Regions from separate parts of the Homo sapiens genome. Here all the other regions are reported to be linked to region 2. Evidence: microRNA targets listed by miRTarBase, many of them from high-throughput screens and not tested one by one. Region 2 holds a microRNA gene; each other region holds the end of a gene's coding sequence.

Region 1 (3,000 bases), not on the chromosome of region 2:
ATTCTCCTGCTTCAGCCTCCTGAATAGCTGGGATTACAGGCACCGACCACCATGCCTGGTTAATTTTTGTATTTTTAGTAGAGATGGGGTTTCACCATGTTGGCCAGGCTGGTCTCGAACTCCTGACTGCAGGTGATCCACCCCCCTTGGCTTCCCAAAGTGCTGGAATTACAGGTGTGAGCCACCGCACCTGGCCCATCCCTTATATCTTAACAAACACTTCTCTCTGCATGTTTTGGATAATTGCAAATATTCTCAATCACTTCTCTCCCTTTTCTTCCCCTTTATTTTTGCAAGTCTTCTTGCATTTTACTTGCAGTAAGATGAAAAATCTGACTGGTCATAGTGGGAAAATCACTGCACAGAAAAGCAGAGAAACCCATGGATTGTTTTCTGTATTCACTCTTGTTGTCTAACAAATTAGAAAAAATTATGGCCAGTAGCAAGTACAGATGCTTTTACGGACAGTGATGAGCTTGAAGTAGACAAATTTGTTTCCACTCTGGGTACCTATTGTCAATGTTGACTTCATCAATATATAAAGGGGGCAAAGGGACATACTGCTGAGGGAAGCTTCTCTCTCTGAAATCTGCTGCCTTAGTTCAGGGGGACAAATGAGATGCCCCACCAAATAAAGCTTTATATCACATTTACATGATTTTTTTTTCGTGTAAGATAAGGATAAGTAAACACACTCCTTGCAATCCCCAGCAATAAATGTATCTGTGTAAACAGACAACAATATGATGTCAGAGTTTTTCAGGGTTCATTTCATTTTGTAAGCAATAGGATGTAACCAGAGATACTTCTATTGGAATACTTCAGTTTATACACTACAAATCATAATGTTAGCACACAACAAACTTTACATAGTTTCTACAACTGTCATTTGCGATTAATTCATCCTCCATCATACTACAGATAGGTAACTTCAAAATAAGAGATGAGTTTATTTTCAAATGTGAAATCATGTCAACATTTTAATCCAAACTCAATATATTTAACACACATATTTAAGAGGCTTACTACATCATGCAATTGGATTAGAACACCTTTACAATCCTATGAAGAGAGTACAGTGCAGAAAAGTCATATCTTTACATTAACCAACAAAATCTTAGCAATTATATTTTAGTCTTACATCACTACAGGGTTTAAAAGTGATCGCTGCAAAATCAGATTTTAAAAATATCTTCCACAATCATGATTTTTGTCCTTCACTGTTCAAGTAAAATCTTGTGTCATCCAGTTGCAAAATCTTATTATTGATAACACGTATACGTGTATACAAACCACACTGCAAATTAACAAAAGAATTGTACCCAGTCAGGCTGACAAAGTTTAATAAAGGGACACTTCTAATCTAATCATTTCATCTTGTAAGTAATATTGTTATTCTCTACATCTATTCATTTGCCATGTTTTAGGAAAGAGCACATTCATACTTTCAAACATGCAAAACATGATAAACTAGAATAAATGGCACTTGAAAAACCATTATAAAAGAGACTTGCCTGAAGTCGTTTCATTTGACAAAAATTAACTAAAAAAAAGGCTAATTGTAAAAAATAAAATAAAATAATACATTATAGAGAATATTAAGTTGAACTTCATTTGCCGTTTTATAGAACTACACCACTTCTGCAAATAAGTATGTTAATTGGTCTGTTCTTTGGTGAAAACAGAGCTATGATTTCATAGTTATGTTGAGGGAGCAGTTAGCAGGTGTGCTCCACAACAAAAAGAAATCAGACAATCTAAAGGACATTGGCTACTGGTTGCCTTTATTCTCAGCACCAGGAATGGAGAAATCTTCAGCAAAACAAGCTCCTAACACCAGATATTCTCTTTATTTAAAATTGTTCAACATGACAGAATGCCTGTTGCGTAACCTGGCTTTTTTTTCTAAAACACACAGCTTTTTGCTCTTTCTTCTTTTACAAAAAGTGGTTTACTACATATATATATACATATATAGTAGCTTACACCAGTGGTGACACTGCAAAGTCAATTTCCTGGGCATTTGATGGCATCAAAATACCATTTTGAAATATACAGAACAATACGAAATGCAGTTCATCACTTGCAGTTACTACTGTTCCACAGAAGTCAGGTCAGCTCTTTGGTTTTGGTGCAGTACTTAAAAAATTAAGGCAAAACTCCTCCTAAAATGTATTTCCCTCCAAGCCCTTATTTGCTTATGTTTACAAAATAACTGTCAACAAAATGCTACCTTTTTTAAAAAAAGCCAGTTGATTACCAATAATGTCAATGCCAGTGATTTGGGTGATAAAGTTATTCTGTATTTCCAAGTACATACAGATATTCTGTAACCTGTTTAGTTTATTTCACCAAATCCGACAACTGATTAAAAACAGTTTATTAGAAATGTTCCTATAAGTGATCCAATTTATCAAAATAGTGTTTTCTTTCTCATGGAAGCTTCAATTATTTTGCTATTTATTATGAAGGTTTGTATTAAAACCCCTTCTTTATTTTTTACAAATAACTTGTCTTGATATGAAAGGAGTTCTGAGTGTTTACAGCTCAAGGGATGGATCTGTTGGGTTTTCTCATCTGGGGTTGAATATGGCTTCATTCTTGTAAGAGATTATTGCCGTCTGCCCTGAAGTGGACTGTTGCCTCAGTTCACTACAACAAGAAGTGAGTGTAACCTTCTGCCCCCGTAACTATAACATCCATCCAGATCCGCATGGCTTCTGGCGATGGGGCTACCATATAATAGATTCTGTCATGAGTCTTGACGCTAAAGGTGAGTAACGGATTAGGACTCTAAAATTCAAAAAAGGAAAAAGAATGTAAAATAAACATCTTAAAATACAACATTAAATAACACAGACATGTGATGACTTCTTCAAAATTTTCAATTTATTAAATTTACAAAGGCGTTACTTTTGCTCTACTATAACTCACACACCTGTCCCAGAGCCTTTTTCAGGATTGACCATTTTTCTGAACAGGAAATCTCAGACAGAACTC
Region 2 (3,238 bases):
CTTTTTCTACCAAGCACTCATAAGGTAGATCCTGCTGCAGTGGACCTGTATTAAAGATATGTATCTTGATAAGAATGGAGGAAATAGAGGGATGGCCTTTTTCCATGAAGAAAAAGAGCCGCATTTCTTGAAATCAAGTAGAACTCAGGAGCAATATCTGGCCATTTATTTTCTAGGAAAGGTAAGTAATTAAAGAACATTCTAAAGAGACTCAAATATAGGATGTCTGTGCTTAAGGGCTGTTGGAGACCTTAGAGGTCAGGGACAGATTAGTAGATGAATATCCACATAACCATGGGCATGTCTGAACCTCAGTTACGTATGCAGTGACTAGTCAGAGCCTGATACGTAGTAGGTACTTAATGTATGGTAGTTATTGTCTGTTAAATGAGTTACATTTAATTTGAAAAATAGCTCAAACTGCTTAAGCACTAAATGAAGCAGTAGTTAATGTATACTAGTCTGGAAAAACTCACAAGGCAAGTTTCAAGAACCTGAATATCAGTGCCACTCACATGTTCCATTGTGAAGAAACATTAGAGTACAAAAGAGAGGTAGTAACTAGTGACAAGTAAGCTAATGTCCACATAAGAAAGGACCTGCAGAGTGTCAGTGAGTTATCAAGAATTGGAAGGGACCACTCACGTGATATGAGTGTAACAAGTCAAGGCAGGGATTTCTGATGAAGTACATTATTAGAAAGCAGTTTAAGGGCGTTAACTGAAAGTATATTGCTACAAAAGGTTGTCATCCTTGAAATTATTCATACAGCTACAGACTTCTCTAGGCCATCTTTTGTGCTTTGACATTTCCATTTCTAGCTAACAAGAACGTTTCCTTATACCTAAGAATCTAAATTTTTTTTACTCTCTGCTCTTCATGGTTACATTGGGAAAAAGCTGGATCAGATTGCCAAATACATGAGAAATTGCTTAAATGTGAAATTATTCATGTAAGCCTTCATGTGTTAGTCCATTTGCCTTGTTGTAAAGGAATACCTAAGACTGGGTAACTTGAAAAGAGGTTTGATCAGCTCACGGTTCAGCAAGCTGTACCTGAAGCATAGTGCCACCACCTGCTTCTGGTGAGGCTTCAGGAAGCTTACTGTTAGGACAGAAGGCAAAGGGGAGCCAGCGTGTCACATGGCCAGCACTAAAGCAAGAAAGAGAAGGGGGAGGCCCCAGACTCTTTTAAACAGCCAGATCTCATGTGAAGTCAGTGAGAACTCACTCATCACCAAGGGGACGGTGCTAAGCCGTTCATGAGGGATCTTCCTCCATGATCCAATACTTCCCACCAGGCCCACCTCCAACATTGGAGGTCACATGTCAACATGAAATTTCAAAGGGACAAATAACCAAACCGTATCACTTCATTTATATGCCATTGATCTAAGAGAGAAGAGAATGCTTTAGAAATTACATTTGATAAATTAACCAAGTTAGTATGTGGTGCTGCTAGCATCAAATCACAAGTATAACTTTGTTCACTCTCTTAAGGCTGTAAGCTGTGCCCACATGCTAAGCAGCCCTCATGATTTAAGAAAAAAAGTATGAGGAGTTAGGAAGTTTGCTACTGTACATCTAGGATTCATAGTTAAACCAATTATGGATAGAAGTCAGGTCCTATTTTCATTTTTCTCAATTATTTTTCTCTTTCTCCAGATAAAACTGGTGGTGGAGTGGCAACTTCAGGATGACAAAAACCAAAGTCTCTTCTGCTGGGAAATCCCAGTACAGATCGTAAGTCTATCTGGGGGTGAGAGGGCATGGGTGGAGGGAAGAAAGTGGAGGAGAAATCAGACTGAAACTAAATCAGTGCCATAAGATAAAAGGAATTTCAAGACTGCTGTTTTATGCCTCTCAACCTCTAAAAGCATCTGAGACCCTATTTCCTGAGAGCTCAGAACTGTTGCCTTTGTAATATCCTTTGTTAAAAAAAAAAAAGGTTGAAGGAAAGAAGAGAGAGTGAGACTGTAGAGATTGATTTAACTGTCTTCATTGGTTTTTTTCTGTCGGAGTAAGGAAGGTCCAGCCAGACAGGACCTGAAGGAGGTTGCTTAGGAATGTCTGATAACTTGCCCTAGGGTTATTGCCCTGACAGTGGAGGAAAGGTTCCAAACCACTTCCACTGAGCTGGGACATTACATCCACAGGTTTCTCATCTCTAAGTGCCTCATTGAGTTCGGTGCATCTGGCCAATGAGTCTGCTGAGACTCTTGACAGCACCTCCAGCTCTGCTGCTTCAACAACAGTGACTTGCTCTCCAATGGTATCCAGTGATTCGTTGAAGAGGAGGTGCTCTGTAGCAGAAACTGAGCTCCGGGTGGCTGGTTCTCAGTGGTTGTCTCATGTCTCTTTTTCTGTCTTAGGTGGTTTCATTAAATGCAGCACTTGGTTAGCAGATGTTTAATTTTTTTTTTAACAACATTAACTTGTGGCCTCTTTCTACACCTGGAAATTTACTCTTGAATAAATAAAAACTCGTTTGTCTTGTCTTCTGCATGTGGGCTGTGGTCTTCTCCTGCTCCTTTCAGGGTACATTCTGCTAGAACCATGGAAGGCAGGCCCCCAGTTCCGTGGTCCCAGAGTGCACTGAAGACATGACTTTTTCAGAAACTCTTTTTCCTCCTTTTTGTCCAGTAAGACCATATCTATTTTATATAAAATGGCCTTGTTTTGCTTTATTTGACACAATCTTATACCACCAAGCATGCTCGAAAGAAGCAGTGAAAGTAAAAATCACCTAGTTGAATAATAACGCCTGAAAGGTTGAAGGAACTGAATTTGGTGGGGAGGGCAGGTAGGGGTTAGGGATTACAGGTTAGGATGAGGCATGGTGATCTTTTGGGAACACTGCTGTGAAGAAAGCCTAGAAGCTTAAAAATGAAATGTGAAGTTGTAGCAAGTAATGGCTAAATTAATTAAATCTTGGAGTTTCCTATCTTAAAGTACAAGTATAATCATGGGCATATATTTTGCCACCTATTTTGAGTCAGTATACTAGCAGTCAGCTCTTAGGTGGTACAGGGATTACAACCCCATTCACAATTGAGTTGAATAACATGGACCTTAGGTCATCCATTGTTAGGGCAAAAGGAAGGAACATTCATACAAAGTGCTTGTGAGCAAGTGATTGATTTGATCCAGTTCTTTTCATCCCACTAATTTCACTAGACCCTTGGATTTCTTTGGTCTGTGAGTTTCCCAGGAAAACCACCAGGGGACAGTGATGGATC
Region 3 (3,000 bases), not on the chromosome of region 2:
CCATCCTGGTCAACATAGTGAAACCCCATCTCCACTAAAAATACAAAAATTAGCTGGGTGTGGTGGCGTGCGCGGCTGTAGTCCCAGCTACTTGGGAGGCTGAGGCAGGAGAATCACTTGAACCAGGGAGGTGGAGGTTGTAGAGAGCCGAGATTGTGCCACTGCACTCCAGCCTGGTGACAGAGTGAGACTCTGTCTCAAAAAATAAATAAATAAAAATAAAAAAGGGTTAATACTTGAAAGCAGTTAGTGCCAGACACAGTAGGGGGCTCAATAAATGAAGCTGCTGAGAATCTAGTATGTATAAGGGTGCCCAGCACATCCATGAAAAGCTCTTGCACCGGCCAGGCATGGTGGCTCACCCCTGTAATCCCAGCACTTTCGGAGGCCGAGGCAGGCGAATCATGAGGTCAGGAGATCGAAACCATCCTGGCTAACACAGTGAAACCCCATCTCTACTAAAAATACAAAAACAAAATTAGCCAGGCATGGTGGCGAGTGCCTGTAGTCCCAGCTACTAGGGAGGCTGAGGCAGGAGAATGGCGTGAACCCTGGAGGCAGAGCTTGCAGTGAGCCGTGATCATGCCACTGCACTCCAGCCTGGGAGACAGAGTGAGGCTCCGTCTACAAAAAAAAAAAGCTCTTTCAGCAGGTGTGTTGGCTCACGCCTGTAATCCCAGCACTTTGGGAGGCTGAGGTGGGTGGATCACCTGAGGTCAGGAGTTTCAGACTAGCCTAGCCAACATGGTGAAACCCTGTCTCCACTAAAAATATAAAAATTAGCTGGGCATGGTGGTGGGTGCCTGTAATCCCAGCTACCTGGGAGGCTGAGGCAGGAGAATTGCTTGAACCTGGGAGGCGGAGGTTGCAGTGAGCCGAGATCATGCCACTGCACTCCAGCCTGGGCGACAGATTGAGACTCTGTCTCAAAAAAAACAAAACAAAACAAAACAAATGCTCTTGCAGTAGTTCAGAGCCCTTGCCTGTGAATGAGCAGCACCTGCTGGTCATCCAAGGCGATGCAGTATCTCATGTTTACAAAGGTCTGGCCAGGACCACACGCCAAAAACTGCATGGAGAGTATCATCAGGGGCTCTCTCCAAAAACACACTGTGAACAAGCAGCATGAAACAGGAGGCATCATTTTTTAACAAGACTTTTATTTGTACAAAGCATTACAATCTTCTCAGCATTCTTCACTCACAAACTTTTCACTGTATTTAACAAGTTAACAGTGTCAAACTACACGTCACTACCTGTCAAACCCCAAGCACTCAACTTAGAAACAAAAAGCGCTTGGAGCACTGAATGGAAACAGAAAAAGGCTAAGAAAGGCCAACAGAGATATTTTAGAAGCAGTTAAAGAGGATGGTTTAGGGAGAGTTAGATTCCTGAGCACCATCAGATTTCCCTTAAGGTTTTTTGTGAAGGGGCTTCACAAAATAATTTTTAGAAGACATGAGACAAAATTAGCCAGGCTTGGTGGCACGCATCTGTAGTCCCAGATACTCAGGAGGCTCAGGCGGGAGGATCACCTGAGCCCAGGATTTCAAGGATGCAATGAGCTATGATCATGCCACTGCACTCCAGCCTGGGCCACAGAGTGAGAGACTCCATCTCTTAAAAACAAAACGTGAGATTAGAACTAAGGAATCAAGAGATCAGAGGAACTCACACTTTGGAGTATTAAGCAGGTTATCAAAGCTTACAGACTGACAGAAGTGAGAAAAGGAGGCAGATGAGAAAGTGGGATGGGGAGCAGAGGAGAGGCAGGAGAGAGAAAGGAAGCAGGAGGCACAGAGGGAGAAAGCTGTGCCTAGAGAAAATCAAGTTTGGCACTCGTCATGAATTGAAGAATGAAAAGCCATAGTCACAAGTCTGGGAGATGGACTACAAGAAGAGGAAGCCTGGGGTTTTACACCTTCCGGGAGGTGATGACAAATCCTAAAGCTGTACAGTAGCAGAGAGTAAGGTACATCTGACACTATGCCATCTGTTTTTGTAAAAGACACTGGCACCATGTTTGACTAATACCATTCCACACTGCTGATTTAAGAATATCTGTGATCAGATTACTACCACACCAGCAGGCCGATCATCTACAGGCAATATAGAAAGGTTTTGGGCCAAGTGGGTCTATGAAAAACAAAATTCAGTTAATGCTTCTGTCAAGTGAAGAGAGAGAACGGATTTTGTTATTCTCCCACAGCATTTTAGTAGTTTCCTAAAGCTTACTCATTCTGAGCAGTCTTAGTAAGCTACTATTGTCAAAGACTGTGCAATCAAACATAGGCTGACCATAAGCAAAGCCCCAGTTTTTCCTGAGCCTTGGCTGCCTCTGTGATCTGGAACACAGCAGGCAGCATGGAAGTTATTATTACTTATTTGGGGGACTAGGGAAGACTGCAGATCAAAAACCATCTAACCATACATTTAAGTAAACAAAAGCGAGCAAACTGACTAATTTAGTCGTTCAGAATCCCTCTTGTCAAAAGGCCATAACCTTCAGATTGATGAAGCAAAACAGGATTCTGCTACTCAGATGCTCTGAGTTTGGTAAGTGCTGGTTTTGACGGTATTTCTAGTCAGTTTTTATTCTGATCTTTTCAGGCACTTTTGCCTGAGACTACTCTGCCCAGCATGGAAAAGCTTCACAGAAACACGTAGCACGTCTCATTTCAAGTGGTACCTTCCAAGGTGCCACAGTCTCCCGCCCTTTTCAGTTGTCTACTTCTTCCTCTTCATTCTGTTCTTCTTCTTCCAGCCTTTCTTCGTCTTCATCATTGTCCTCATCCCTGCTCTTGTCTTGCTCTTCCGAGTCTGTTTTTTTGTCTTTGTCCTTCTTCTTTTGCTCTGAGGCCTCCTTCTTGCCTTTCTGCTCCCGCCTATATGCTGTAAGGACGGAACAAGGGGTTAGGAGACAGAGCTGAAAGTGAGCCAGACGGACTGCAGGAGCTAATTACATTGTACAATTGGAAAAACGGAGGCAGATGGGCGCGG

Evidence for each region. Region 2 holds the annotated microRNA hsa-miR-4709-3p (UUGAAGAGGAGGUGCUCUGUAGC, at 2,287-2,309, shown strand). A microRNA usually pairs through its seed, bases 2 to 8, with sites in the 3' UTR of a target mRNA and lowers its output. Matches are read on the target gene's strand: a 7mer-m8 pairs with bases 2 to 8, a 7mer-A1 pairs with bases 2 to 7 and ends in A, and an 8mer does both.
Region 1: the mRNA of PHLDB2 is a reported target of hsa-miR-4709-3p. Seed matches in the 3' UTR shown: 7mer-m8 at 1,066-1,072.
Region 3: miRTarBase lists POLE3 as a target of hsa-miR-4709-3p. Seed matches in the 3' UTR shown: 7mer-m8 at 2,174-2,180 and 7mer-A1 at 1,850-1,856.

Annotation. Positions count from the first base shown.
Region 1 is chr3:111,974,216-111,977,215 of GRCh38, reverse strand. PHLDB2 (pleckstrin homology like domain family B member 2) reads right to left here. Exons shown (of 18, transcript NM_001134438.2): 18 at 699-2,793. The coding sequence ends at 2,653. Among named protein-coding and RNA genes, the nearest start is that of ABHD10, 3.3 kb to the left of the region's middle.
Region 2 is chr14:74,479,206-74,482,443 of GRCh38, reverse strand. MIR4709 (microRNA 4709) reads left to right here and starts at 2,240; the gene lies at 2,240-2,311. NPC2 (NPC intracellular cholesterol transporter 2) reads left to right here. Exons shown (of 5, transcript NM_006432.5): 4 at 1,665-1,742; 5 at 2,156-2,504. The coding sequence ends at 2,170. It also overlaps a transcript of SYNDIG1L not described here.
Region 3 is chr9:113,406,092-113,409,091 of GRCh38, forward strand. POLE3 (DNA polymerase epsilon 3, accessory subunit) reads right to left here. Exons shown (of 5, transcript NM_017443.5): 5 at 1,144-2,892. The coding sequence ends at 2,720. Among named protein-coding and RNA genes, the nearest start is that of POLE3, 3.1 kb to the right of the region's middle.